4 linked regions of the Homo sapiens genome follow. The protein of the gene in region 1 interacts with the protein of each later gene in a biochemical or structural test. Each region holds a gene or a part of one and is shown in the gene's direction. Other genes may lie near its edges. The genes, in order: TRIM7, RWDD2B, ATG7 and RNF187.

Region 1 (7,953 bases):
CCAGGCGTGGTGGCAGGCACCTATAGTCCCAGCTACTCGGGAGGCTGAGGCAGAGAATCGCTTCAACCCGGGAGGTGGAGGTTGCAGTGAGTCAAGATCTCGCCACTGCACTCCAGTCTGGGCGACAGATCAAGAGACTCTGTTCCCCCTCCTTACCCAGCCCCCCCCCCAAAAAAAACTACTTGCATCAAAATTTCTGGAAGAATATGTACAAAAATATAAAATTGAAATTTTAAGGGGGAGTTAAACACTTTTCACTGAATTCTGTTTTATATTTTAATGTTCTTTAATTTTTATTTTAAAGATGAGGGTCTGGCTAGGTTGCTCCCGAACCCTTGGCCTCAAGCAATCCTCCTAAAAGTGCTGGGATTTACAGGCATGAGCCACCGCGCTCAGCCGAAAGATTTTTGTTTTTGGGTTTTTTTGTTGTTGTTGAGACGGAGTCTCGCTCTGTCTCCCAGGCTGGAGTGCAGTGGCGCCATCTCTGCTCACTGCAAGCTCCGCCTCCCGGGTTCACGCCATTCTCCTGCCTCAGCCTCCCGAGTAGCTGGGACTACAGGCGCCCGCCACCACGCCCGGCTATATTTTTGTGTGTTTTTAGTAGAGACGGGGTTTCACTGTGTTAGCCAGGATGGTCTCGATTTCCTGACCTCGTGATCCACCCGCCTCAGCCTCCCAAAGTGCTGGGATTACAGGCGTGAGCCACCGCGCCCGGCTTTTTTTTTTTTTTGAGACGGAATCTCGCTCTGTCCGCCAGGCTGGAGTGCAGTGGCGCCATCTCAGCTCACTACAACCTCTGCCTCCTGGGTTCAAGTGATTCTCCTGCCTCAGACTCCCGAGTAGCTGCGATTATAGGCGTCCACCACAAGGCCCGTTTGTATTTTTTAATTTTTTTTTTTTAGACGGAATCTTGCTCTGTCGCCCAGGCTGGAGTGCAGTGACGCAATCGCGTCTCACTGCAACCTCCGCCTCCCGAGTAGCCGGGATTACAGGCGCGTGCCACCACGCCCGGCTAATGTTTGTATTTTTAGTAGAGACAGGGTTTCACCATATTGGTCAGGCTAATCTCGAACTCCTGACCTCAGGCGATCCACCCGCCTCGGCCTCCCAAAGTGCTGAGATTACAGGCGTGAGCCACTGGGCCCGGCCGAAAGATGTTTTTTTTAAATTTAATTTAATTTTTGAGACGGAGTCTCTCTCTGTCGCCCAGGCTGGAGTGCAGTGGTGCGATCTTGGCTCACTGCAAGTTCCGCCTCCCGGGTTCACGCCATTCTCCTGCCTCAGCCTCCTGAGTAGCTGGGACTATAGGCGCCCGCCACCCCCGGCTAATTTTTTGTATTTTTTTTTCAGTAGAAACGGGGTTTCACCGTGTTAGCCAGGATGGTCTCGATCTCATGACCTCGTGATCCGCCCGCCTCGGCCTCCCAAAGTGCTGGGATTACAGGCGTGAGCCACCGCGCCAGGTCGAAAGATGTTTTTTAAAGCTCATTTGTGATGTAGCCTCTGTGGAAAATGGTATGACACTTCCGCAAAAACAGAAATGCCGTATGACCTAGTAATTTCACTTTGTGATGTATACTCTAAAAAAATAGAAAGCCTAAACTCAAACAGATATCTGTACACTCATGTTCATAGCTGCATTATCCACGGTAGCCAAAAGGAGGAAGGAACCAAGTGTCCATTGGCAGATGAATGGATAATGTGGTATATATGTGCAATGGAATGCTAATCAGCTTTAAAAGGAAGGAAATTTTGACACATGCTACAATAAGGATGAATCTTGAAGACATTAAGTGAAATAAGACAATTTAAAAAGGAAATATAAGGATGAATCTTGAAGACATTAAGTGAAATAAGACAATTTAAAAAGGAAATATTGCACGATTCATCTTATATGAGGTATCTAGAGGAGTCAAATTCAAAGACACAGAAAGTAGAATGGTGGTTGCCAGCGTCTGTGGGCAGAGGGGAATGGAGAGTTAATGCTGAATGGGTTCAGAGTTTCATCTGGGAAACAGGAAAAAGGACTGGAGACTGATGCACAACCATTTAAATGTATTTAATGCTACAGAACTGTACAGTTAAAAAGTGTTAAATTTTGTTGGGCATATTTTACCACAGCTTTAAATCCTAATTGTATCGCAAGATAATGGGTAGATAATGAACAGTGGAGCGCCCGCAAGAGTATTACACACACAGAAATGCAAGACTTCAGAGCAGATTATTTTCCTAAGAGCTGGTCTACTTATAATATATTTTTAGGTATGGCTAGTAGTCGTAGATTTAGGACTAAAACGACCAGTTGCCGCCCAACGTGGGGCTCGAACCCACGACCCTGAGATTAAGAGTCTCATGCTCTACCGACTGAGCTAGCCGGGCGCCCGATGACCGTATCTCAACAATTTTTCATTCTAGATCAGAGTCGGAGTGTATTCAACTGCGGGTTTGAACTTGGATTTATTTGGAGTGTGATAAAACTACTAAAGTGCCTCGGCTCCTGGGAAATTCAAACTCTGCCGTCAGTGCCTGACCGTCCCTCCCACTTACGTCCGTTTCCTGCCCCTTCTACCCTACCAGCGACCAAGCCATTTTCTACCCGCGATGAAGCTCACGGCACGGAGATGGAGAAACGTGCACCCTGACGCCACTGGAGCTCTCACCGTGTGGATTTTTTTTTTTTTTTTTTTTTTGACAGAGAAGACTCTCAAAAAATGGGCCTACCTTTCACCACGAACTGCGGCTCTGTCGCCCAGGCTGGAGTGTCGTGGCGCAATCTCGGTTCACTGCAACCTCTGCCTCCTGGATTCAAGCACTTCTCCTGCCTCAGCCTCCTGAGTAGCTGGGATTACAGGCGTGTGCCACCACTCCCGGCTAATTTTTGTATTTTTAGTAGAGACGGGGCTTCTCCATGTTAGTCAGGCTGGCCTCAAACTCCTGACCTCGTGATCCACCCGCCTCGGCCTCCCAAAGTGCTGGGATTACAGACGTGAGCTACCTCACCCGGTCAAGTACCGTGTGGATTTTAAAACAGGAGGGAAAGACAATGGGGCCCAGAGGAGGGCAGGGGCCGCCGCGGTCTTTTTCTACTCCGCAGACTCCACCCTCTGGGTTTTTTCTTGGAGCTCTTCAAACATGCTGGATTTCAAAATTTGAAAGGAAAATCGAAAACAATAATTGAATGTGCAAAACTACACTGGAGATGCCGGGGATCGAACCCGGGGCCTCATACATGCAAAGCATGCGCTCTACCACTGAGCTACATCCCCACCTACTCTCAGCAGCTCTCCCAGATGGTCCCTATTGGTCGCTTAACTCAGGACACCGGGAGTGGAAGGCAACCGGTACGCGCTGGGTCTCAGCCGCTGCAAAAACCCGGCATCGCAGGGCAAGAGTTGTTCCAGCGTCCTCCGCTGACTCCAAACCAGCGGGTCTTGACCAAGGGATTCCAAGAGAGAGGATTAGGCCCGGCTAAGCACCTGGGAGCAGCTGTGGAAAAAGGAGAGACAATCATCAGGCACGATGCCAAAAATGAACTGTGACCTGAAAAAGAGAAGAAAGGAAAATTGTGCAGGATGCTACGTTTTGTTTTTTAAAAGTGGGGGTTGAGGCAATAAAATACGGAATATTTGATTAACGTAATCCAGAATTGTAAAGTTGATTGCTCGGGAGGAAGAAAGGACTGGGACACAGGCGATGGGCCTACTTTCCACCGTGAACTGCGGCTCCTCTTTTGAATTTCGAACCAAGTTTAATCCAAGAAAACCTTACTGAGCTTGCCAAGAACTGCTCTAAAAACAGGATTCAGCCGTGAACAAACCTAGTACAGTCCATCTGAAAGCTGACATTCCAGAGGAGATAGAGTGCGGGCACAGAGCCGGCCCTGAGAAGGGAGCGCGCTAAGAGACGACTTTACACAGTGTGCGCGTTCGGGGCGGGCTTCGTGGGCAGAGACGTTTGAAACAAGACCTGAATGAGGTGGGAGGGAGCATGCAGGTGGTGGGAGAAAAGAGGTCCACGCAAGGGGAACAGCCAGCGCAGAGGCCACGGGGTTCAGGAACAGCAAGAAGATCGGGGACACTGGGTCCTGGAAGGCCCTGAGAAGGGAAGTCGGGAAGGAGGGAGCATCCGGGGGCAGATGAGGTGAGGCGAGGTCTTCGCCTTTGGGTGAGAATTGCTGAAGTTCCCGGTGACATTGGCAAGGGCGGTTTCTGAGGAGGGTGCGGGCGAAAGCTTGATCCAAGTGGCCTCCAGAGTGAGCGAGGAGAGAGGGTGTGGAAGCGGATAACACAGGCAGCTCTGCTGCGGGGCTGTGGAGACAGCTGGGGGACAAGAGAGCGCTGAGGTTTGTGTGTGTGTGTGTGTGTGTGTGTGTGTGTGCGGTGGGGGGGGAATAATACTGAATACAATGGGAAATTATAAATGTGTTATCTGTTCAAATACTAAGTAAAGAGTAAAGAAGCCGGAGGACAGTCGCAGAAAAGGTAATGGAATGGATACAAGGCCACGCTTGCGCGTGAGGGGACAGGACCAGGTTCCAGTCTCTAAATTTAACTCAGCACAGGGCCGGGGCGAACCTGCGCTGGCGGAACCTGACACCGTGGCCCGAGCGCCAGGCCCTTGCCCCGGCGATGCTGGGTCGGCCTCGGTCGGAAACCGGGAGTGGCGCTGGCAGCATTTGTGCGCCCACCTGTCGCGGCCCGTTTCCCGCGGCTGACTGGGTCAGGCTGGGGCGGCCTGGAGAGTCTGAGGGACGGGGGCGAGGGGGAGAGGCCGCTGGCCAGGGCGGGGGCTGGTGGAGCGCAGATCCGGGGCGCAGGGCGCTGTCCCGCACTTGAATGGCCCGTAGTCAACGTGCGCCTCCCCTCCCGGCTCCCAGCCGGGCGCGCCCCGGGCTCGAGTCTCTGCCTGCCCAGTGGCAGCCCCGCCCTTCCTCTCCCAGTGGGCCCTCGGCGCCCAGCTCCGCGTCCTGTGAGGTCCAGTGGCCGCCCAGGCGCGACCAGATCTGGGTGCGCGGAGAGCGCGCATGGCGGCTGTGGGACCGCGGACCGGCCCCGGAACCGGCGCCGAGGCTCTAGCGCTGGCGGCAGAGCTGCAGGGCGAGGCGACGTGCTCCATCTGCCTAGAGCTCTTTCGTGAGCCGGTGTCCGTCGAGTGCGGCCACAGCTTCTGCCGCGCCTGCATAGGGCGCTGCTGGGAGCGCCCGGGCGCGGGGTCTGTTGGGGCCGCCACCCGCGCGCCCCCCTTCCCACTGCCCTGTCCGCAGTGCCGCGAGCCCGCGCGCCCCAGTCAGCTGCGGCCCAACCGGCAGCTGGCGGCAGTGGCCACGCTCCTGCGGCGCTTCAGCCTGCCCGCGGCTGCCCCGGGAGAGCACGGGTCTCAGGCGGCCGCGGCCCGGGCAGCGGCTGCCCGCTGCGGGCAGCATGGCGAACCCTTCAAGCTCTACTGCCAGGACGACGGACGCGCCATCTGCGTGGTGTGCGACCGCGCCCGCGAGCACCGCGAGCACGCCGTGCTGCCGCTGGACGAGGCGGTGCAGGAGGCCAAGGTGAGCGCAGCCCCCACCCACCCCGTGGGTCCCCGGGACCCCCTGACTTGGTCCCGCGCTCCCGCGCACGGGGTGCAGAGAACAGCCTGTCGATCAGGAGGCCCGGGTGAGCCCCTCCCTTCTTTCTCCATTCCAGGAAGCCCAGCGCTGGTTCCCGGGCTGAGCGCGGTTCTCTGTCACCCCCAACATCACCAATACCCCCACCCCACCCCCACTGCGTTTCCCTCTGGGCCAGATACTGGGCCGCCTGCGCGACGTCCCCCACGGACTTGGCGATGTTCTTCCTGTCTGTTCGGAGCCTCTAGCCTGGTCTGCGTCTCCGCAGCTCTCTGCCCGCGGGAAGTCTCCGGCACAGCCACGCAGCCGCTGCCCCCACTCTTATCTCTTTCCCCGAAGCGGGCTCTGCTCAAAGTCCCCACCTCGTGGAACTGAGTGAGAGGACCTCGCCAAGATGTCCAGGGAGGGGGCTCCCGGGTTAAGCCGCGCACCTAGAGCCGTCTGACTGTGCCAACGCTGTCGATTCTGGGGGCCCTTTCTTTGCTATTTTCTCGCTGAGCCTCAGCGAGGGTGTGTGCAGGGGTGAGGGCGGGGCGGGGAGGCTCGGGCGGCAGTCCCCAGTCTCTCCTTGCTGGCCCATCCTGCTCCAACTCTCCCAGCCACGGGGCTTCCTGGTGGGGGGGCGGAGAGTAGAGGAGACGACTAGGGGTAGGGCTGCCGGAGCTTGTGTTTCAGTCTGGCTGGTCCAGCAGATGCTTTTGGGGAAGCAAGATCCCGAGACCTTCAGAGTCACCTCGCAGTGTAACCTGTAGCCTGTAGAGATGACTTCTACCCGGCCTCCCCCTCAGTGAGCAGGGCCTTCCCTTTCTCCTGGCTGGCTCCAGGAAGGCAGAGGTGGGGGTTTCCAGAAGCCCCTCACCCCCACCTTACATTGTTTCCCTTCATCTACAGGAGCTCTTGGAGTCCAGGCTGAGGGTCTTGAAGAAGGAACTGGAGGACTGTGAGGTGTTCCGGTCCACGGAAAAGAAGGAGAGCAAGGAGCTGCTGGTGAGCCAGGCACCCGCAGGCCCCCCGTGGGACATTACAGAGGCCTGAGAACTCAGCACCAGGGCTCGGTGTGTGTGGTGTTGGAGTGTGTGCTATGGAACCGCAGAATCGATTTCAGAAAGATAATAGAGTCCATATTATATAGGGTGTCCACATAATTGTTGTACAAACCAGAGCTTTTTAAAGTGAAAAGCAGTGCTAAAATAATTATTGCAAAACAACTGGCTTAAACTGGAGCTGTCCCAGCGAATCAGGACGCTCAGTCACTCTGATATTACGTAACATACCAGTTAGGGCCTGCGGAAGCATCTTGTAATGGAACACATTACTATTTCTGCAGAGAAACATGGATATTCAATAAGTGGGAATATTAATACAATAAAGAGCCTCATGGCATGTTTTGTCAACAAAACAGTAGTGAAAAAAATTTCATGTTCACAGTGTTTTTATTTGAAATCGAGGCTAACGGAGAAGGGGCTAGAGGGCGTCAGAGCTGCTCCCTGGCTCTGGCAGAGGGAGGAAGTTTAGGGTCTTGGGTTTACAGTAGCCCCTGCTGCACAGCCCAGGGTCTTGGGTACTGGCACCTGCCTCTACCCCAAGTTGGAATGATATTTTATCTTCCTTAGGGTAGAACAGGAAAGTGAAACGAGGGCTCATTTTGGTTAAGATAAGCAAACATGAGGCCTGGCAGGGTGGCTCACGCCTGTAATCCCAGCACTTTGGGAGGCCGAGGTGGGCGGATCACGAGGTCAGGAGATCAAGACCGTCCTGGCAAACACGGTGAAACCCCTGTCTCTACTAAAAATACAAAATAGCCGGGCGTGGTGGCGGGCGCCTGTAGTCCCAGCTACTCCGGAGGCTGAGGCAGGAGAATGGTGTGAACCCGGGAGGCAGAGCTTGCAGTGAGCCGAGATCGCGCCACTGCACTCCAGCCTGGGAGACAGAGCGAGACTCCACCTTAAAAAAAAAAAAAAAGATAAGCAAACATGAATCACCATCGGTCATTTTCTACCTTGCAAATTCAGTTCCTAGCTCAGTAAATAGGTGTTGAAAGAATAAAAGGATTGGCTGGGTGCGGTGGCTTACGCCCGTAATCCCAGCACTTTGGGAGGTCGAGGTGGGCGGATCACCTGAGGTTGGGAATTCCAGACCAGCCTGACCAACATGGAGCAACCCCATCTCTACTTAAAATACAAAATTAGCCTGCCGTGGTGGCACATGCCTGTAATCCCAGCTACTCGGGAGGCTGAGGCAGGAGAATCACTTGAACCCGGGAGGTAGAGGTTGCGGTCAGCCAAGATCATGCCACTGCACTCCAGCCTGGGCAACGAGAGTGAAACTCCATCTCAAAAAAAAAAAAAAAA
Region 2 (7,762 bases), on another chromosome or scaffold:
TGGTCTCCAACTCCTGACCTTGTGATGCGCCCGCCTCGGCCTCCCAACGTGCTGGGATTACAGGCGTGAGCCACCGCGCCCGGCCGCGAGAGTGAATTTTTAAAGCAAAACCGAAAGACGGTGTCAGATAAATTGCGGGGGAGGAGGGGATTTTCAAATATTTACTGTCCATTCTTTGAAAATTTGTAAGTGCGAGCCCTGGCGCGGTGGCTCACCCCTGTAATCCCAACACTGGGAGGCCGAGGCGGGTGGATCACGTGAGGTCAGGAGTTCGAGACCAGCCTGGCCAACGTGGTGAAATCCCGTCTCTACTAAAAATACAAAAAATTAGTCGGTCGTGGTGGCGGGCGCCTGTAATCCCAGCTATTCGGGAGGCTAAGGGGGAGAATCGCTTGAAGTCTGGAGGCAGAGGTTGCAATGAGCCAAGATCACTCCATTGCACTCCAGCCTGGGCAACAAGAGCAAAACTCCCTCTCAAAAAGAAAAAAAGAAAATATGTAAGTGCACACTTTGTGCCAAGCCTTTCCTCAAATGAATTAAACATAGGCCTCTCTGCCCTGGAGTCTTAGTTTAGTAGAGAAGATAGTAATCGCTACCGTGGGGGTCGGGGGAGTTGCAGATAGCTATAGAAAAATAGATATGTAAACAGGTAATTCACCATAAAAGAACAATTGGTCATAAAATAAATGTCCATCCTTACTAATCAGATAAAAGGAGTTTAAGATGGTGGCATACTAACCACCAGAGTAACATTTGGTTAAATTTGGGGGAAAACTAGCTCTCTTGCTTTTTACTGCTGAGATAATTTTTGTTTTATTTACTTATTTATTTATTTATTGAGACCGGGTTGCACTCTGTTACCCAGGCTGGAGTGCAGTGGCACGACCTCAGCTCACTGCAACCTCCACCTCCCGATTCTCCCACCTCACCCTCCCCAGTGGCTGGGATTATAGGCACGTGCCACCCCACCACACAGCTAACTTTTGTATTTTTTTGGTAGAGGCAGGGTTTCAGCATATTGGCCAGGCTGGTCTTGAACTCCTGGCCTCAAGTGATCCACCTGCCTCGGCCTCCCAAAATGCTGGATTACAGGCATAAGCCACCGGACCCGGCTTAGTTTCATCTTTCTCTGTATTCTGACAACATTATGACATTACAGTCCAAGAGATATTGGGCTGGTCCTTGTTTGGTCTCTGGTGATTTAGATGAGGCAGGACTGAGCCCCCACGAATGTATTATCTCAAAAAGTTAGTAGCAGCTACTGTGCAAAGTTCGAAGGCCCAAGTCAAATCCTGGGCATATCCACGGATGTGTGGTAGGGCATAGGCTCCAGCTCTCATGCAAAAAAGAACAGGAGTGGGATGAGATAATTTTTTAAAGCTTTCTTCTCCAAGCTCCAGAAATGCAGGCTTTTTGCCCCCACGCATTTTAAAACAGAGCCTTAGGGTCATTGTACCACGTGCTTCCTGTCAGAAAGCCTCTTCCCCCTGATCTTCCGGGGTTGGTATCTTATTGTCATTCTGTTCACACCTTATTTTTAATTTATTTATTTTAGAGACAGGGTCTGGCTTTGTAGCCCAGGCTGAAGTGCAGTCATAGTTCACTGTAACCTTGAATTCCTGTGCTCAAGTGATCCTCATGCCTCAGCCTCGCGTAGCTGGTACTGCAAGTGTGTGCCACCTCATCAGCTAACTTTTTTTTTTTTTTTTTGAAGTCACCGTGTCTCTACAAAAGCCTGCTGCCCAGGCTGGTCTCAAACTCCTGACCTCAAGCGATACTCCAGCCTCAGCCTCCCAAAGCACTAGGATTCCAGGTGTGAGTCACCACACCCAGCTTCTATACATGCCTTAAAAGTCACTTCCTTCCAGTTACAGGGCAATCTAAGTAACACAGTCATCTGATCACTCACATCACCTTACTTTACTTCTCTGCCCAGCAGTTTATCCACTATCTGGTAATTTTCTTTCTTTTTTTTTTTTTTTTGAGACAGAGTCTCACTCTGTTGCCCAGGCTGGAGTGCAGTGGTGCAGTTACAGCTCACTGCAGCCTCAACTTCCCAGGCTCAGGCAATTCTCCTACCTCAGCCTCCTGAGTAGCTGGGACTACAGGCCTACAGGCACACGCCCCCACACCTGGCTAATTTTTGTGTTTTTTGTAGAGTTAGGGGTCTCTGTTGCCCAAGCTGGTCTCAAACCCTGGGCTCAAGTGATCCTCCTTGGTCTCCCAAAGTGCTGGGATTATAGGCATGAGCTATCATACCCAGCCATAATTTTTTTTTTTTTTCTTTTTTTTGAGACGCAGTTTTGCTCTTGTTGCCCAGACTGGAGTGCAATGGCGTGATCTCGGCTCACCACAACCTCCGCCTCCCAGGTTCAAGCAATTCTCCTGCCTCAGCCTCCCCAGTAGCTAGGATTACAGGCATGCACCACCATGTCCAGCTAATTTTTGTATTTTTAGTAGAGACGGGGTTTCTTCATGTTGGTCAGGCTGGTTTTGAATTCCCAACCTCAGGTAATCTGCCCGCCTTGGCCTCCCAAAGTGCTGGGATTACAGGCATGAGCCACTGTGCCCGGCCCATAATTTTCTTTTATTTTTACCTTTATGTTTAGCCCTCTTCATACATACACAGAAATGTGCAAATATAAGCTCTTTGAGAGATGCGACATCTTTGTCTTGTTCATGGCTATAATTAGTACCTGGAAATGCCTGGAATATAGTAAGTGCTCGATAAATATTTATTGAAAAGAAAGTCATGAGCAATAAAATGCTATATAAGAACGTTCACAGCAGCTTTATTTATAATAGCCAAAAAACTGAAGACAGCCCAGGTTTCTATCAAAACAAGAATGGAACTGGTATATTCATATGATGGAATACTACTGAGCAATCAAAAGAAAGTGATACACATGATATCAGATGAAAATATTACCCTGAGTGAAAGAACCCTTACACAAAAATATCTATTGCATGACTCCAACCATATGACGTTCTATAACAAGAAAAATAAGTATGGTGGGGGAAAAAATCAGAACAGTGGTTACCTTTGGGGAGAACTGGTTGGGAACTAAGAAAGGGCATGAAAGAACTTTCTAGGGTGATGGTAACGTTCTATATGTTAATATGGCTTGAGTTCCATAGGCGTGTGCATTTAAAAACTGATGTGTATTTAAGGTATGCATTTCATTTTTACCTTAAAAAATCCTTAATTTGAACTCCAATGATGTGCATTAGAGGTACTTAGAAGCGTACTGTCTGCAGTTTACTTTTAAATGTATGAAAACAGATAGATTGATGAGGTATGTGACAAAGCTGGTAGAGTAAAATTCTGTACTCTCCAGGTCAGTGTTTTTCAACCTCAACACTATCAACATTTTGGACCAGCAAATTTGTTGTTGTCGGGGGATGTCCTGTTCATTGTAGGAAGTTGAGGAACATCCCTGTGCTCTACCTACCCCATGCCAATACCATCCTTCCAGTTGTGACAACCCAAAATGTCTTCAGACACTGCTAAATAGAGGGGAAATCCATCCTTCCCCTTCTCTTGAGGTCTGCTCCACTGTAAAATTCTCTCGACTTCGCTTTACACTTGAATTTTTTCATAATAAATGTTGGAGGAAAAAATAAATTATGACATTGAAAAACGCTCATGAAACACTATGCAGAAGACGTAGTTTATGAAGACCTACAATACATACTGTCGTATTTTTGTTTAAAAAAAAAAAGTGGAGGGGAGACCTAGCAGTGATATTTAGTATTGCTAAATGTCAATGTTTACAAATCTTATCTATGACATTTCTAAAATGAATATTATAAAGTGTATTGCATATAGTTGGATTGGGAAGAAAAACATTTCTAATTATTCTCCTGTCAGCATCTCCTTCAAACTACCCTTTTATTAACAGGGATAGATATGCATTCACACGGTTCCTCCCAGCTTGGTTAATGGGCAAGAACACCTAAGATAGCCAAGGCCACCATGCATCCAGGCTCACATCTCCCTAATTGCCCTCCTCCATGATTCAGGGACAAGGAGGATCACCATCGTGTGGGAAGATACTAGAAATGTAGAATTTGGAACCCCACCCCTACCTACGGAATCCTGATCTGCACTTCAACAGGATCCCCGAACTATTCCTAGGCGCGTTCGAATTTGAGGAACATTAACGGACCAATTCTTTGTCCCTGAAAAGTGCCCGTTATAGAGGCGGCCGCTGGGAAATGACAACGGGGTTGGCATGGAGAGGTATTAAGTAGAAAAACTCCGGCCGGGCACGGTGGCTCAGGCCTGTAATCCCAGCACTGTGGGAGGCCGAGGCCGGTGGATCACCTGAGGTCAGGAGTTCGAGACCAGCCTGGCCAACATGGTGAAACCCCATTTCTACTGAAAAATACAAAAATTATCTGGGCATGGTGGTGGGCGCCTGTAATCCCAGCTACTCGGGAGGCTGAGGCAGGAGAATCGCTTGAACCCAGGAGGCGGAGGCTGCAGTGAGCCGAGATCGCGCCACTGCACTCCAGCTTGAGAGACACAGCGAGACTCCGTCTCAAAAAAAAAAAAAAGGAAGAAAGAAAGAAGAAGAAGAGAACTCTGCGACTGAAAAGTACCTAGCAGGGACAACGCATTCCCTACGTCCTTCCAAGTGCAGACACCAACACCGGCGGACGCGGCTCCCAACAGGCGAGCCCCAGCTTCCGGTCCGCGGCCTTGGACGCGCATGCGCCGCATGCTTTTTTTTTTTTTTTCCGGTAGGTCGCCAGCTGAGGCGGTTTGTAAGTTTTGGGTCGCAGTATGCTAGAATTTTGAGGCTCCCTTCTGATGAAAATTGAGCTGTCCATGCAGCCATGGAACCCGGGTTACAGCAGTGAGGGGGCCACGGCTCAAGGTGAGTCTCGCCTCAGCTAGCGCCAGTGGTGACCGCCACGGGGGTTTCCCACGCTGCAGCGCCCAGTGCAACCCTTTGGGAACGTGCCCGGCATGGCGGCCCCGGTTCCCCTCACTGCATGCGCCCATCGGTCGGCTCGGTCCTCGGCGTTGCTTCCCGGCTTCTGCAGCCCTGCTCCAGCCGGGGACCTCGCCCCGGGGGCAATCAGGGTGCGAGGGCGGCTGCGTGCTGGGCTTTCTTCCTGAGAGCGTCTTGGCTTGGGTCGCGGGGTACCCTGCTCTGTTCTTCAAAAAAAAATCTGCAAGGAAAAGATATTATTCCACTCAGAAATCTCAAGTTTCAGTCTGCGTTCTCTTAAATATATTTTATTTTTTAAAAAAATAATAAAGGCGAGCTCTTACTATGTTACCCAGGCTGATCTTGAACTCCTGGGCTCAAGCAGTCCCCCTTCCTCTGCCTCCCAAAGTGCTGGGATTACAGGCGTGAGCAATCGCGCCCGGCCACAGTCTATTATCTTACAGCATTCGCTGAAATCTTGAATCATAAAATTATCTTGAGGGTTTTTTGGAAGGACTGAAATCTCTTAAGCGAAAATAATTTGGCAGATAAATGACCTGTGACATCACTCCCGTAGTTGTCCGTTCAAGAGTCCCTCCGTCCCGTTCTTCTTTGCTAATCCCATTTCATCTTCGATACCTCCAATTCAATAGCACCCTCTCCCAACTTTACTCACTCCCTGGGAGACTTTAAACAAATATATAGTTCCAAATAAGTGTTGACTCCCAAGATTATATATCTAGCTGAGTCTCTCGTAGACTTCAAAACTATACATCTAACTGCCTGCTAGACCTCTCTATTTAACAGGTGTCTTAGTAGGCACTTCATTACTTGTGTCTAAAACCAAGCTTCAGCTCCCCATGACCATCAACGTCTAAATAAATGGCAGATCCATACTTTCAGTACCTTAAAGCCCCGGAGTCATTCTTCCGTGTCTCATGTAATTCATCTGTAAATCCTGTTGCCTCTGTTCTCTGCATGTATCCAGAACCTGAAGCTCACCAACTTGACCACTATAATCCTATCAAAGCCACCATCATCTCTCCCTAGTTATTGCGGTGTCTATATCTGGTCACCCCACTTTTCCTTTCACTTTTCTCCATAGCAGCAAGTGTGGGGATCTTCATAAGTCAAACCTCTCTTGTAGCTCTTACATGTCAGTCGGGATAAAATTCAAAATTCTGGCCATGCTTTACTAGTCCCAACATAAACTGCCCCACATTTCCTTACTAAACTCTTCTATTCCCCGTGTCCTCAGCTCACTGTGCTCTGGCCAGCTGTTCTAGCACCCTCCTTCCTCAAGGCCTTTGAATATGCTGTTCGCTTTCCCTTGAACACTCTTGGCCAAGAAAAACACATGGCCTCCTTTTTCAGTTCCTTAAAGTCTCTTCCCTACAGTCACCTTAGGAGAAAGGCCTTTCCTGACAATGCTGTGTGCAGTCTCACCCCTGCTGCCTCATTGTTTCCCTTATCCTTGTTTTCTTTTTCAGGTTTCTTCATAGCAGTTATTCACTGGGTACAAAAATTCTTTTTTGTTTTTTTTTGAGACAGTCTTGCTCTGTTGCTCTGGCTGGAGTGCAGAGGTATGATCTTAGCTCACTGCAACCTCCGCCTCCCCAGTTCAAGCGATTCTCCTGCCTCAGCCTCCCTAGTAGCTGGGACTACAGGCGTGGGCGACCACACCTGGCTAATTTTTGTATTTTTAGTAGAGATGGGGTTTCATCATGTTGGCCAGGCTGGTCTCAAACTCCTGACCTTAGGTGATCCGCCCACCTCATCCTCCCAAAGTGCTGGGATTACAGGCGTGAGCCACCACCGCACCTGGGCTGGGCGTATAAATTTGTTTTTGATGTCATGGTATCCTCCCACCAGTAGAGTTGTTTTATTACTTTCATTCATTGTTATCTTAGTGCCAGTGCTTGAACGTAAGTGCTTGAGAAACATTTGTTGAAATGATGACCAATAATAATAATAGTAATAAGCAGCCGGACACGGTGGCTCATGCCTGTAATCCCAGCACTTTGGGAGCCCAGGGCGGGTGGATCATGACGGCAGGAGTTCGAGACCAGCCTGGCCAACGTGGTGAAACCCCGTCTCTACTAAAAAACCCAGAAAGCAGAGGTTGTAGTGAGCCGACTCTGCACTCTGGCCTGGGTGACAGAGCTAGACCCTGTCTCAAAAAAAAAGGTTTTTTTAATTAATAATAATAGTAGCAAGCACGCATATAAAATTTACTGTTGCCAGGCACTTTCCACAAATTCTCATCTAATCATCACAGCAACCCTCTCATCCCAGTTATGGAGTTGGGGAGACTAAAGCACAGATAAATTAAGCCACTTGCCTAAGGTCCTGCAGTTGGTAAGTGGCAGAGCCAGGAGTCGCACCTTGGCAATCTGGTAATAGAATCCAAAAACACTGGTAACAGAGCCACGCCAACAAAAAAACAAAGTAAACCATTTCCTCTAATAACCACCCAAGTAGTTGTTTTTTATGTTTCTCAACTCCAAAACAGACCAGCAAATATGTATATGGAATTCCAATAAGTCCAGGGATTTTAAGTATGTATGAGGATTTTGTTTAAAAAAAAAAAGGCCGGGAGCAGTGGCTCATGCCTGTAATCCCAGCACTCTGGGAGGCCAAGGCGGGTGAATCACCTGAGGTCGGGAGTTTGAGACTAGCCCAACTGACATGGTGTAACTCCATCTCTACTAAATACAAAAAATTAGCTGGGTGTGGTGGCGCATGCCTGTAATCCTAGCTACTTGGGAGGCTGAGGCAGGAGAATCGCTTGAACCTGGGAGGTGGAGATTGCAGTGAGCCGA
Region 3 (7,534 bases), on another chromosome or scaffold:
CAGCTACTTGGCAGGCTCAGGCACGAGAATCACTTGAACCCAGGAGATGGAGGTTGCAGTAAGCCGAGATCGCGCTACTGCACTCCAGCCTGGGTGACAGAGTGAGACTCTGTCTCTCTCTCTCTCTCTCTCTCTCTCTCTCACACACACACACACACACACACACACACACACAAAAGAAAAAAAAAAGAAAAGAAAAGGGGTCCTGATCCAGACCCCAAGAGAGACTTCTTGGACCTCACACAAGAAAGAATTCTGGGACAGTCCATAAAGAGAAAGAAGGTTTATTAAGAAAGCAAAGGAGGCTGGGTGTGGTGGCTCACGCCTGGAACCCCAGCACTTTGGGAGGCCGAGGCGGGCGGGCCACCAGATGTCAGGAGTTCAAGATCAGCCTGGCCAACATAGTGAAACCCTGTCTCTACTAAAATATAAAAAAGTAACTGGGCTTGGTGGCTTGTGCCTGTAGTCCCAGCTACTCGGGAGGCTGAGGCAGGGGAATCGCTTGAACCCAAGAGGCGGAGGTTGCAGTGAGCCGAGATCACGCCACTGCACTCCAGCCCAGTGACAGAGCAAGACTCTGTCTTGGAAAAAAAAAAAAAAAAGAAAGAAACCCCATTTGTATTAAAAAAAAAATACAAAAATTAGCCAGGCATGGTGGTGTGTTCTTGTAATCCCAGCTTCTAGGGAGGCTGAGGCAGGAGAATTGCTCACCATATTCTAGGAAGGCTGAGGCAGGAGAATTGCTTGAAACCAGGAGGCAGAGGTTGCAGTGAGCAGAGATGCGCCATTGCATTCCAGCCTGGGCAACAGAGTGAGACTCCATCTCAAAAAAAAAAAAAAAGAAAAAAGAAAAAAAGGGAGTAAAAGAATGGCTACTCCATAGGCAGTGTGTGGTGGCATGGGCTGCTCAATTGATTATGCTAATAGTTACTTCTTGATTATATGCTAAACAAGGGGTGGATTATTCATGAGTTTTCTGGGAAAGGGGTGGGCAATTCCTGGGACTGAGGGTTCCTCCCCTTTTCAGACTGCATAAGGCAACTTTCTGACATTGCCTTGGCATCTGTAAAAGGTCATGGCAATGGTGGGAGTGTCTTTTAGCATGCTAATGCATTATAATTAGCGTATAATAAGCAATGAGGATGACCAGAGGTCACTCTCGTCACCATTTTGGTTTTGGTGGGTTTTGGCACGTTTCTTTAGCACAACCTTTATCAGCAAGGTCTTTGTGACCTCTGTCATACCCTGATCTCCAGTTTTATCCTGTGAGTAAGAATGCCCAACCTCCTGGGAATGCAGCCCAATAGGTCTCAGCCTTACTTTACTCAGCCCCTATTCAAGATGGAGTCATTCTGGTTCAAATGCCTCTGACAGTAAAGGTTAAGAAATCCTTCTTGGCCAGGTGCAGTGGCTCACGCCTGTAATCGCAGCGCTTTGGGAAGCCGAGGTGAGCAGATCACCTGAGGTCAGGAGTTTGAGATCAGGCGGGCTAACATGGTAAAACTCCGTTTCTACTAAAAATACAAAAAATTAGCCGGGTGTGGTGGCATGCACCTGTAATCCCAGCTACTTGGGAGGCTGAGGCAGAAGAATCGCTTGAACCCGGGCGGTGGAGGTTGCAGTGAGCCAAGATTGCGCCATTGCACTCCAGCTTGGGCAACAAGAGTGAAACTCCATCTCAAAAAAATAAATAAATAAAAAAAAAAGGCTGGGCGTGGTGGCTCACACCTGTAATCTCAGCACTTTGGGAGGCTGAGGCGGGTGGATCATGAGGTCAGGAGATCGAGTCCATCCTGGCTAACATGGTGAAACCCTGTCTCTACTAAAAATACAAAAAATTAGCCGGGCGAGGTGGTGGGCGCCTATAGTCCCAGCTACTTGGGAGGCTGAGGCAGGAGAATGTCATGGACCTGGGAGGCGGAGCTTGCAGTGAGCCAAGATTGTGCCACTGCACTCCAGCCTGGGTGACAGAGCGAGACTCCGTCTCAAAAAAAAAAAAAAAAAGGAAAAAGAAATCCTTGCTGGGCAAGGTGGCTCACACTTGTATTCCCAGCACTTTGTGAGGTGAAGGTGGGAGGATCACTTGAGTCCAGTAGTTCAAGACCAGCCCTGGCAACATAGCAAGACCCAGTCTCTACAAAAAATGAGAAAATTAGCCCGGCATGATGGCATGCACCTGTAGTCCCAGCTACTCAGGAGGCTGAGGTGGGAGGATCCCTGGAGCTCAGGAGGTTGAGTCTGCAGTGAGCTATGATCACTCCACTGTACTCTATCCTGGGTAACAGAGGGAGACCCCGTCTCAAAAAAAAAAAAAAAAAAAGATAAAGCAAAAAAGAGAAATCTTTCTTAACCTTTTTGTGCTTCAGAAAATGTTCACTACAAAGAAATACCCATTCTCATGTCACTTAAATGACTCCTGGTTGCCTCCCTTGTTTACTGTGGCAAGGTCAAACACAGTCCTTCTGAATTCCCATTCTTTGCCTCATAAATGATTACAGAGCTGCTTGTCTCCATTGACCAGTTGGAAAAAATGCTTATTAACCAAACTTGGGTTAAGCTTCTTTCCTTTCCCCAGGCTCCTTACTTTAACCTACTCTCAGCTTGAACTAGCATACTGTCTCATGTGTCCGTGTGAAGAGACTACCAAACAGGCTTTGTGTGAGCAACAAGGCTGTTTATTTCACCTGGGTGCAGGTGGGCTGAGTCCAAAAAGAGAGTCAGCAAAGGGTGGTGGGATTATCATTGGTTCTTATAGGTTTTGGGATAGGCGGTGGAGTTAAAAGCAATGTTTTGGGGGTAGGGGGTGGATCTCACAAAGTACATTCTCAAGGGTGGTGAGAATTACAAAGAAACTTCTTAAGGGTGGGGGAGACTATAAAAGAACCTTCTTAAGGGTGGGGGAGATTACAAAGTACATTGATCAGTTAGGGTGGGGCAGAAACAAATCACAATGGTGGAATGTCATCAGTTAAGGCTATTTTCACTTCTGCGGATCTTCAGTTGCTGCAAGCCATCTGGATGTATACGTGCAGGTCACTGGGGATATGATGGCTTAGCTTGGGCTCAGAGACTGACACACACAACCCCTACTGAGAATAGGTTGGCCTCAAGATAAAACATTCTCTAATCTACTATCTGATCAAGCCACCCCTTCATCCCACTTCCCATATTCGGTTGTTTCCAGCCTTGTTTACCTGCCTTTGGGGAGGGTGGGGGGTGGGGGAACCCTCTTTTTCCCTAACCATTGAAACATCTGCGGATGTTTTGGTCAGAGTGATCTCACTATTGCAATAGTCTCCCTCTGCTATTGCACGGTTCCTTCTCTCCCACCTCTCTCACTTCTTGCAGTAATCCTTTCTTTTTTTTTTTTTTTGAGACGGAGTCTCGCTCTGTCGCCCAGGCTGGAGTGCAGTGGTGGGATCTCGGCTCACTGCAAGCTCCGCCTCCCGGGTTCACGCCATTCTCCTGCCTCAGCCTCCCAAGTAGCTGGGACTACAGGCGCCCGCCACCACGCCCGGCTAATTTTTTTGTATTTTTAGTAGAGACGGGGTTTCACCGTTTTAGCCGGGATGGTCTCGATCTCCTGACCTCGTGATCCGCCCGCCTCGGCCTCCCAAAGTGCTGTGATTACAGGCGTGAGCCACCGCGCCGGGCCTGCAGTAATCCTTTCTAATAAGTATCCTTATTAGTCTGGATTTGTTTTCTTATTTGCCAGAATCAAACAAACTTCAGATTACGTTCCTGGCCCAAAAGCCCTTTAACTTTCAGCAAGCCACCTAACTTTTCTTAGATTCTGTTCTTTCATATATAACTTGGGGATATGTTTCAGGACTCTTGTGAGGATTAGAGATGTAAAACCCTGAAAACATGGTGGCTAGTTAATTAATAGCAGTCATCGCTCTTGTTGTTATGAGTCTAGAGTGGTATATCAGAGTTAATTTGTGAAAGGCCTTACAGGCCAGACAGAGAAACTTGTCATAATCACTGCTGTATCTTCAACACCTGTCCAGTGCTTTGCACGCGCAGAGTATCTAACCAAGTATTGAGAGGGAATAACTTTATCTCACTGACAGTGAGGAGCTGTGAGAATGATGGCTGGTTTAGAAAAGGCAGGTTGGTCACTGTCGACGTTCACTGGCCTTTTCCTACTAAAATTCTCATCTCCTGGCTCTCCACACCTGCCACCCTGATGGCCCCTGTGCTGCGTTTGATGCCGCCTCTCCTGGAGAATGACCATGGTGATCATTCCTGTCATCCTCTGAAATCAAAAGAGAGAACGTGGGCACTTTCTTAAAAGCCTGAAGGGAATGTAGACATTCCGACATCTGGTAAGGGAGACGCTCTCCATCGCTTCCCCCGGGGGCGTCACCGCCCCCTGATGCCCCGCCCTCCTCACGACTCAAGTTCCTCCCACTTAGCTCGGTGCTAGGGGCGCATTTCCCCGGCATGCCTCTGCTCCTTTGCGCACGCGCGCCGCTTCCCAGTGGCAAGCGCGGGCAGGACCGCGTTGCGTCATCGGGGCGCGCGCCTCAGAGAGAGCTGTGGTTGCCGGAAGTTGAGCGGCGGTAAGTGAGCCGCGGCGGGCGAGGGTGTAGTGGGGTCTTGCTGGGCCGGTTTTGGAGGCCTGGAGTCAAGGGGCGAGCTCGCCAGGGAGGGCGAGGGTCACAGCAAGTCTCAGGATCCTCCTCTGCCAGTTTCTGGGTGGTCCTTCCTCCTCCAGGGACTCACTGATTCCGGCTGGCGCCCTTCGTCTGTAGCCGCGTCCCCTCAGACTGGTTCAGTCCGGGGTCTTCTGACTTGGAAGCTCGTGCTGATTTCCTAAGTCAGCCCCTCCTGTCCTCTTGGTAGGCAGTGCTCAGAATCTTCAGTGTTGGAACACGGGAGATGGGACATTTGGATTCCCAGCCTGGCTGTGTCTGGATTTGCTGTCTCTGGCACGTTCCTTCCCCATCTAAGCTGCTTTTCCATCTGCAAAATGGGAATGATAATCCGCCATTTGTTTAAGTGAGGAGGTTAAATAAGTTTACTTTCTGAGAAAGAAGATTCTCGATTCCTTGGTTACAGGGTTAGAAACTAATGCACAATAAGAATCAATCCGGTAAGGTAAATATAGGTGTTAGAACATTTGTCAGAAATAGAGTCAAACTTCTAATTTTATAAGTACAGTACTAACGTACATGATGTTGGAGAAGTACAAGCCAAACCGTGTGTGTGTGCACGTGCGTGCAGTTTCCTGATTTTTAAACACTGGCGACTGATGCCATTTTTTAAAAATTGGCAAGTAATTCTGGCGTTTAAAAACATTGGCAACTCAGTTTTTACAAAACCCTGTTCAACTGTAACCAGTCATATCTGTGGCTGTCAGTTTGGGACCTCTGGATCCCAGACTCCCTTTTTCATTGACTACTTAGATTTTTTTCTCTGACACCTCTGCCCACTGGCCAGATTTCTTCAGTGACAGAAAGCTTTCTACTTCTGGTTGCTCCTGTTTGGTCCTCCCCCAGTTCTGACTCTTAGGTTGAGCTGAAAGCAGCTACTCGGTAATCTTAGCTCACTGTTCCTCCTTCAGGCTCTTGGAATCACCCCTGCATTTAATTGCCCTATACATCATTGAAAGCTGCTAGTTTGTCTTCCTCTTCTCACCTTTTCTTCTCTAGGCTAAGCATATTTAATGTATTTGCTCATAGTAAACTTAACAGTGACAGCAAATTTTGTCATGTTTTGTTATATCCCCAGCATATAGAGCAATGCCTAGCATATTATATATGCTCAATAAATATTTGTTGGATGAATGAATAAAACAAATATTTGCCTGTTATGTGCCTGGCATTATTGTGGGCACTGGTGATCTATCAGTAAAATAAGAAGAAAAAGAACCCTGTTTCATGGCACCTTCTAATAATAGTGGTGGTGGTGGCGGTGGCGGCATTGTCAGTAAGGGTTGGTAGGTGTTTCCGATTCTGAAACGTACAGGGTCATGGGATGGACAGTAATTGGGGGGAAGCATAAAAGCTAGCTAGTCAGGGATGGCTTCCCTGAGGAAGTGACCTAACACTTGAATAAAGAAAAGTCCAGTCTTGGAATGGCTCATGTTGCTAAACTGCTTTCCCATCCCCCAACGCTGCTCCAGTCTTGTTAAGCTGCTTGCAGGTGTGTGTCACCTATAGCCCTTTGCTTCTGCTGCTTCGAACATCTCCCCTTCCTCTTCCATTTATCTTGGCCAACTCCTTCCTGCCCTCATGTGACATGATTTTGAAATCCTTTAAGAGCTGAGTACTGGACTTTCCATTACTCAACCACAGGTTCCGTTTTTCGTTCCCAGCCAGCATCTCATTATAGAGAATAAACATTTATTGAGCTTCAGCTGTGTGTCTGGCACTGCGCTGCAAGCTGGGAATACAAAAATGAGTAAGATACACATCCCTGTCCTCAAAGAGTTTACTTTTTTTTTAAGCCAAGGAGATAGCAACGGTATGGCATGAAGCTATTGCGGAGGTTTGGTAGAGGAGGACTTAGGGTACGCATAAGTCAGGCTGACTCATCAGAGAAGGTTTCAGTGAGGAGGTGCTGCTTTAGCCAAGACCTGAAGGACGAACGAGATCTGACAGGTGAAGAGTGGTTCGAAGTGAGATGAGCAAAGGGCTAGAGGTGAGAATGCATGGCCTGCTTGTGGTTCACTGGAGTGCCAGTGTGGAGGTGTAGGATGAGAGGTGACTGGAAAGGTAAGCACTAGCCACATCGTGAAGGGCCCTGTGGACAATAGCATGTTACCCGCACATAGACTTTGGGATCCAAGATAGCTGCGTACCAATATTCCCATTGCCACTGAACTAGTTTTGTGACCCTGGGCAAGTCACTTCTTTCTAAGCTTCAGTTTCCTCATCTCTAAGAAGGGGAAATAAAAACTGTACGAGGTGATATGTTACTCACTTGACACTGGTAGATGATAAATACTCAATAAACAGTAGTCATTAATATTGCCAGGCCCAGAAGTTTGGACTCTAAAATGTGGGGGCGGGGGTGGAGAGCAGGACACTGAAGATTTTAAAACAGATGCGACATCCTCTCATCTGTTTTAAATTACCCAGGCAGCAATGTGGTGATTACACTGGACAGAAAAAGACAAGCAGGGGACCAGTTGGGTATAGTTGCAGTGATCCAGGTGACAGGATGAAGATCTGGATGAAGGCAGTGACAGTGGAGATGGAGAGGAGTGGGAGGAGTTGAGAGATTAAGGAGGTGGAATTTGCTGGACTTGGTAACTGATAGGATGAAACAGAAGAAGGGGACAAGAATCAGGATCCTGATGACGGGAGGGCAGAAATGAATTTGCTGTGTGGAATTGAGCAGTAACAAAATTCTTTGACTAGTGTCTCTAATAGATTAACCCTGACCTCTGATTTTATTTGGAATTCAGTTTGCCTCTGTCGTCCACTTCTACCCATGGAAATGACGTTCGCTAATGTCTTCCTCTCCTCTTTTTTTTTTTTTCTTTTTTTTTGAGATGGAGTCTCACTCTGTCGCCCAGGCTGGA
Region 4 (6,857 bases), on another chromosome or scaffold:
ACCGTGTTGGCCAGGATGGTCTCCATCTCCTGGCCTTGTGATCTGCCAGCCTCGGCCTCCCAAAGTGCTGGGATTACAGGCGTGAGCCACCGCGACCAGCCTTTTGCAATTTTTCATCAAAATTTGAGAGGACCAAGGGTTCCCCTTGGCACCTACACCAGCCACCCTGTCTTGGGAAGTGGGGATGCTGGCACCACACAATGTGGATTCTGCTGGTGGTAAGGGAGAGAGGCTTTCAGGCAACAATCTTTGCCAGTGTATACTTCCAAAAGTCTCTAATGCACACATGTGCAAGTTCATGGCTGCTACCATTTGCTAAGCCATGCCCCTAGTATTGGACCTTCAAGGTTTTTTTTTTTTTCTCCAAAATGAATAGTGATATGACATACATTTCTCTTTCTTTCTTCTCTTTCTTCCTCTCCCTTCCTCCCTCCCTCCCTTCCTTTCTCTCTTTCTTTCCTTCCTTCTTTTTCTCCTTCCTTCCTTCCTTTTCTTTCTTTCCTTCCTTTCTTCTTTTTCTTTTCCCTTTCTTCCTTCCTTCCTCTCTCCCTCCACTCCTTCCTTCTCTCCCCCACCCCCCGCCCCCACCTCTCTCTCTCTCTCTCTCTCTCTTTCTTTTTTTTAAGACAAGGTCTTAAAAAATTCTCTCATTTCCCAGGCTGGAGTGCAGTGGCATGATCACGGCTCACTACAGGCTCAATCTCCTGTGCTCGGGTGATCCTCCCACCTCAGCCTCCCAAGTAGTTGGGTCCACAGGTGCGTGCCACCACGCCCAGCTAAATTTTAAAAATTTTCTGTACAGACAGGTTCTTGCCATGTTCCCCAGGCTGGTGTTGAACTACTGGGCTCAAGCTATCCACTCACCTCAGCCTCCCAAAGTGCTGGGATTAACAGGCATGAGCCACCTCTCCCAGCCACATTTCTAAACAAAACAAAACAGCCCAATTTTTTACAACCCAATTTTTATTATTTTCATTTCCTGTTATTTTTATAGTTTGTTTTCTAAGAAAAGGAATTCCAATCAGAAAATCCTTAATCGATACTGCTACGTGGATTACAAGAAGCAGTATTCACAGAATCAAGTGTTTTTTTTGTTTGTTTGTTTTCTGTTTTTTGTTTTTTTGAAATGGAGTTTCACTCTGTTGCCCAGGCTGGAGTGCAGTGGTGTGATCTCGGCTCACTGCAACCTCCACCGCCCAGGTTCAAGCGATTCTCCTGCCTCAGCCACCCAAATAGCTGGGATTACAGGCACGTGCCACCATGCCTGGCTAATTTTTGTATTTTTTTTTTTTTTTTGAAACTGAGGGAGTCTTGCTCTGTCGCCAGGTTGGAGTGTAGTGGCATGATCTCGGCTCACTGCAACCTTCGTCTCCCGGTTCCAGCTATTCTCCTGCCTCAGCCTCTCAAGTAGCTGGGACCACAGGCGTGCACCACCATGCCCAACTAATTTTTGTATTTTTAGTAGAGACGGGGTTTCACCATGTTGGCCAGGATGGTCTCGATCTCTTGATCTTGTGATCCACCTGCCTCAGCCTCCCAAAGTGCTGGGATTACAGGCGTGTGCCACCACATCCAGCCTAATTTTTGTATTTTTAGTAGAGATAGGGTTTCACTATGTTGGCCAGGCTGGTCTTGAACTCCTGACCTCAGATGATTCACCCGCCTCGGCCTCCCAAAGTGCTGTGTTTACAGGCCTGAGCCACGGCTCCCGGCCAAGTTTCCTTTTTTTTGTTTGGTCTGCTTACTTAATAGTGGAAAGAAAGAGAGTCTCGTTTTATTTTCCTCTTTCTTAACTGGGCAGAGTGTACATTTTTTTCTCATGTGTGTTCAATCATTTGTGTGCTTTTTTTTTTGTGATTTGAAAAATCCCATGACAAGGTGTATTTTCCATCATGCTTTTCCTTACCTAATTTTATAAACTCTTTGTATATTTGTGGTTACAATGTTCCTAATTTGGCTATTTGCCTTTAATTATAATTTTTGATATTTTCTCATTCACAAGATTAGTTCATTATGAAGTTTGCTCATTTTTTATATTTTTTACTTTTCTCTCCAGCAAGTTCCTAGTTGACTCAACAATATCAGCAAGGCTCGGCTGGAAGCCTCTAATCTTTACTACACAGAAATAACCTCGGTTTACTATTCATGTTTCCCACGGGCATCTAGTGCATTTCCAAGTCGATTTAAAAAATCTTCACAAAGACAAAAATACCTCATTAGATCCTGCGCTTGCTTGGAATACAGATTTATAAAAATTTTTTTTTGTTTTTGTTTTTTAAGACAGAGTCTCGCTCTGTCGCCAGGCTAGAGTGCAGTGGCACGATCTTGGCTCACCGCAACCTCCGACTCCCTGGTTCAAGTGATTCTCCTGCCTCAGCCTCCTGAGTAGCTGGGATTACAGGCATGCGCCACCACGCCCGGCTAATTTGTGTATTTTTAGTAGAGACGGGGTTTCACCATGAGCCAGGATGGTCTCATATCTTGACCTTGTGATCCGCTCGCCTCGGCCTCGCAAAGTGCTGGGATTAGAGACGTGAGCCACGGCGCCCGGCCCAGATTAATTTTTTAAAATGCAAAACTTGCACAATCTTATTTTAACCATGCTTGCTTGTTTTCAAAATAATTAAAAAACAAAAACACAAGATTGCTCTTCCCAAAGGCTTATTTCTTTCCTTTAAATTTATTTTTTAAAGAAAAGCTAACGGCCGGGTGTAGTGGCTCACGCCTGTAATCCCAGCACTTTGGGAGGCAGAGGCGGGTGGATTACGAGGTCAGGAGTTCGAGGCCAGCCTGGCCAACATGGTGAAACCCCGTCTGTACTAAAAATACAAAAATTAGCCGGGCGTCGTGGCAGGCGCCTGCAATACCGGCTACTCGGGGGGCTGAGGCAGGAGAATCGCTTGAACCCGGGACGCGGAGGTTGCAGTGAGCCGAGATCGCGCCACTGCACTCAAGCCTGCCTGGCAACAGAGCGAGGCTGTCTCAAAAAAGAAAGAAAAGCAAAGCAAAGCTAACAAATGCTCTTCTGTCATGCATCATCACAGAATCAATGAGAGCTCCCCCCAGCCAGGAGACAGCGGACAACCAGGGTAGCTTCCCAGGGGGCCAGAGGGAGGCTGCGCGAGAAGAGGCTCAGCGGGATGGGTCCACGCAGGGAGATCCCACGCAGGGTGGGCGTATACGAGTGTCCACGTCCGGAGGGCCGTTCAAGGGCGGGTCCCTGAAGGAAGGGTGCACGCAGGGCACGTCCACGCGGGCAGGCCCGTGCACGCAGGGCGTGCCCATGCAGGGCGGGTCCGTGCAGGATGAGAGCAGCGGAGGAGGCCCACGCAGGCCATTTCCCGCCCCGTCCCCAGCCCACGCGGGCGAGCTACCGCGGGGGTACGCGCAGCTCAGATCCTAGCAGCTTACAAAAACAACCTTTTAAAAATGGAACCTTCAAGTAAAAATAAAACTTTGTTTCCCTCTTTCGCAGGAGTTACTGAAGTAGGAAGGGACAGCCCAGTAAGATTTCAGGATACGACTTGGGCCGGTCCGCAGGCAGTAGAGTGAAGCGCGCAGCTGCCAGGACTTGCGCGGTGACGTGCGCCGCTGCCAGGACCTTGCAGGTGGAGAGCATAGTTGCCAAAATCAAGGCGGAGGAGCGCACCGCCGCTAGGATCCAGGCGGAGAAGCCCACCGCGGCCAGGACCTAAGGATGCAGTACACTGCTGCCAGGATCTTGTCTGTGGAGCGCAGCGCGGCCAGGACCTCCGGCTGCAGCACACCGCTGCCAGGATCTTATCGGCAGAGCGCTCCGCGGTCCGGACCCCGCCCCGTGCGCGTCCCCGACCCCGCCCCGTGCGCGTCCCCGGCGTTGGCGTCTTCGTCCTGTTGCTGGTCTCCGTCCGGTCGCCGGCCGTCTAGGTCTCCGGCCCTCCCCAGCCGCTCCTGCGCCCTTGCCGGCCCCGCCGCCCGCAGCCCTGGCGCTCCCTGCGGGCCCCGCCGAGGCCGCCTGCGCCCTGTGCCAGCGCGCGCCCCGGGAACCGGTGCGCGCCGACTGCGGCCACCGCTTCTGTCGGGCGTGCGTGGTGCGCTTCTGGGCCGAGGAGGACGGGCCCTTCCCGTGCCCCGAGTGCGCCGACGACTGCTGGCAGCGCGCCGTGGAGCCCGGCAGGCCCCCGCTCAGCCGCCGCCTTCTGGCGCTCGAGGAGGCGGCCGCGGCGCCCGCGCGCGACGGCCCGGCCAGCGAGGCCGCGCTGCAGCTGCTGTGCCGCGCCGACGCCGGCCCGCTCTGCGCCGCCTGCCGTATGGCTGCGGGCCCCGAGCCGCCCGAGTGGGAACCGCGCTGGAGGAAGGCGCTGCGCGGCAAGGTGCGCGCCGCGGGGTCCCGTGCCCCACCCCGGACGGTGCCCTGCGCCTCTCCGCCCCCGCCCCGGTCCCCCTGAGCCCTGGGCCCTTCCCGTCTCCACTGTTCCTGTCCCCGGATTGTCCCCGTCCCCGGATTGTCCCCCTCCCCTCACCGCCACGGGTCCCCTCTCCAGCGTGTGCTGGGCCCCTCCCTCCTGCGGCTTGCCTCCCCATATTTCCTGCGTCTCTTCGGAGTCTGGTCCCCTTCCCCGTCTTGGTGTCCCCTGCTGGGCGGTGCCTTATCTCCCCACCCCCTACCTTCTACGAAGTCCTTCCCCCACCAGCGCCCATCTTTGTGGTCCCATCACTAGCTGTGCCCTGTCTCGCCCTCATAGACCCCCTCTAGTTCCTACAGATTGACTCCTCCACTCACTCTTCCCTTGGGGGAGACATCACGCCTCTTGCCCCTCTGTATTCCACTGTGTCCACAGGCCTGGCCCACCTTCTCGTCTGCTCCCCGGGCCACCCAGCCCTCGCCTGCACCCCCTGTCCCCTCTCCCATCTTTCAGAAACCCGCTCTGAGAGTCTGGCAGCAGCGGGTCCGGGAGTCTGGAGCCTTGCCCATGGCGGGTTGGTTGTGGGACACAGAATAGGAGACAACAGCCAGCCTGGGGTCCTGCTCTTCAATACAGGGGAGGGGAAGCCAGCCAGACTGTGTCCCTGGGTGCTCCTCCTGCATTGGGGGTCCTGCCACCGGGCAGAGCGACCCCCATCCGGCTCAGGCAGGGCAGGGTGTAGGGCAGGCTGTGCAGACCTTTGGTACAGGCCGAACTCACACTGAACAGGGCCACTTACAGACACAGAACTCCTAAACCCACCTAGACAGTCCCCTTAGCCCCAGCACCCAGATCCTTCTGAATAGGTGTGAAGCCCAAGAAACCTTTTGACTGCCTGTGCGTTCCTGCCCTAGACAACCGGGCTTCGAGGTTATCTCTGGGATGGTCAGACTGTGTGCAGTCAGCTGGGGTGATGTCCCTCAGTACTGGGCTGGGTTGGGGGACCCAGAGCTTCTGCCCACCCCTGGTGACCTTCTTTTCTTTACAGGAGAACAAGGGGTCTGTGGAAATCATGAGAAAGGACTTGAATGACGCCCGGGACCTGCATGGCCAGGCAGAGTCAGCAGCTGCAGTGTGGAAGGCAAGTGGGGGGACCTGGGGCAGCCTGGAATGAGGGGACTGTGGGCTCAGGGCTCTAGACAAAGGGACCACCAGGCCAAGTGGGCCAGGCCTCTGAACTGCTCAGCTGGTTGGTTGGAGGAGGGGCCTCTGGACTTAAGTGAGCTTCAGGGTATTTTTTTTAGGATGTGTTTGTATTTCTCAAATAGAATCTAGCCAAAGCCAGTGGAAGCCTCTTTTTCTCCTCACATTTTACCTGTAGGTGATGGCAGCATCAGACTTCTTTTTTTTTTCCCAAGAGACAGAGTCTCACTTCATTACCCAGGCTGAAGTGCAATGGCATGATTGTAGCTCACTGCAGCTCGAACTGGCCTCAGGCGATCCTCCCACCTCAGCCTCTGGGACTATAGGCACGTGCTACCACACCTGGTTAATTTTAAAATGCTTTTCTAGAGGTGGGGGTCTTGCTGTGTTGCCCAGGCTGGTCTCAAACTCCTGACCTTAAGCGGTTCTCCCGCCTTGGCCTCCCAAAGTGCTATTTTTTTTTTCTTTTTTAGAACACATCTGTAATTTTCTGTGGTCCTCTTGTTCTGATCTGAGAGTTGCTCATTATTTTTTAGAGGCTAGAAGTCCAAGATGAAGGAACTGGCAGATTCCCTGTCTGGTGAGGGCGTTTCCTGGTTCATAGATGGTGTCTTCTCACTGTGTCCTCACATGGTGGAAGAAGTGAGGGTGTCTCTGGGGCCTTTGTGTAAGGACACTGATTCCGTTCTTGAGAGTTCCACCCTCACAACCTCATCACCTCCCAAGGGTCCTGCCTCCTAACGCCATCACCTGAGGGATGAGGATTTCAGCATGGGGATTTGGGGAGGACACAGACATTCAGACCAGAGCAGCGTTACTTTCCTTGGGTGCCTTCCACAGTATTATATCCCAAGGGGACATCCCATAGATTCTTTTAGGTTACTCACCAGTAAAGCTCTTTAGTCGTTTAAACTCTATTTGGTGACTTTTTCCTCGTGTAGTAAAAACCTGTGTGCCATTTTCTCTGCGTTTCATAAATTCCTATCTCCTTCTTTTAACCTGAAAGACAGAGTGCTTTTCACAGGTGCAGCAGCTCTTGGGTAACTGGCTGCATCTCGAGGCTGAGGCCCACGTTTTTACCCCAGCTTGAGGCTGAGGTGGGCTCTGTGCTCCTGGTGCTGCCAAGCCCTTGCCTGCTATCCACAGGCCTGAGGTGCAGGCCTCCCTCAGACAGTGACGGGTTACACATGGGGTCCCTGATGCCACTCAGACCCCTGGCACTCCACACTGCCCTTGGGGCTGCTCTGAACTTCTCCTTGCCTTGTGAGT

Evidence for each region.
Region 2: the proteins of TRIM7 (region 1) and RWDD2B interact in a test that uses a peptide from one of them, tested with the Homo sapiens proteins (one study listed by BioGRID).
Region 3: of the proteins of TRIM7 (region 1) and ATG7, one has a biochemical effect on the other in vitro, tested with the Homo sapiens proteins (one study listed by BioGRID).
Region 4: the proteins of TRIM7 (region 1) and RNF187 interact in a test that uses a peptide from one of them, tested with the Homo sapiens proteins (2 studies listed by BioGRID, with this or other methods).

The regions. Positions count from the first base shown.
Region 1 is NC_000005.10:181,202,181-181,210,133, reverse strand, and holds the start of TRIM7 (E3 ubiquitin-protein ligase TRIM7), read left to right. Parts: upstream 1-4,937; 5' UTR 4,938-5,023; coding exon 5,024-5,545; intron 5,546-5,793; exon of another isoform or gene 5,794-6,389; intron 6,390-6,493; coding exon 6,494-6,589; coding exon of another isoform or gene 6,590-6,637; exon of another isoform or gene 6,638-7,546; intron 7,547-7,953. UniProt on the Homo sapiens protein: E3 ubiquitin-protein ligase that have both tumor-promoting and tumor-suppressing activities and functions in several biological processes including innate immunity, regulation of ferroptosis as well as cell proliferation and migration.
Region 2 is NC_000021.9:29,016,332-29,024,093, reverse strand, and holds the start of RWDD2B (RWD domain-containing protein 2B), read left to right. Parts: upstream 1-4,744; 5' UTR 4,745-4,816; coding exon 4,817-4,883; exon of another isoform or gene 4,884-5,181; intron 5,182-5,846; exon of another isoform or gene 5,847-6,508; intron 6,509-7,762.
Region 3 is NC_000003.12:11,267,866-11,275,399, forward strand, and holds the start of ATG7 (ubiquitin-like modifier-activating enzyme ATG7), read left to right. Parts: upstream 1-4,531; 5' UTR 4,532-4,565; exon of another isoform or gene 4,566-4,844; intron 4,845-6,348; exon of another isoform or gene 6,349-7,534. UniProt on the Homo sapiens protein: E1-like activating enzyme involved in the 2 ubiquitin-like systems required for cytoplasm to vacuole transport (Cvt) and autophagy.
Region 4 is NC_000001.11:228,483,527-228,490,383, forward strand, and holds the start of RNF187 (E3 ubiquitin-protein ligase RNF187), read left to right. Parts: upstream 1-3,855; 5' UTR 3,856-3,962; coding exon 3,963-4,352; intron 4,353-5,433; coding exon 5,434-5,526; intron 5,527-6,857.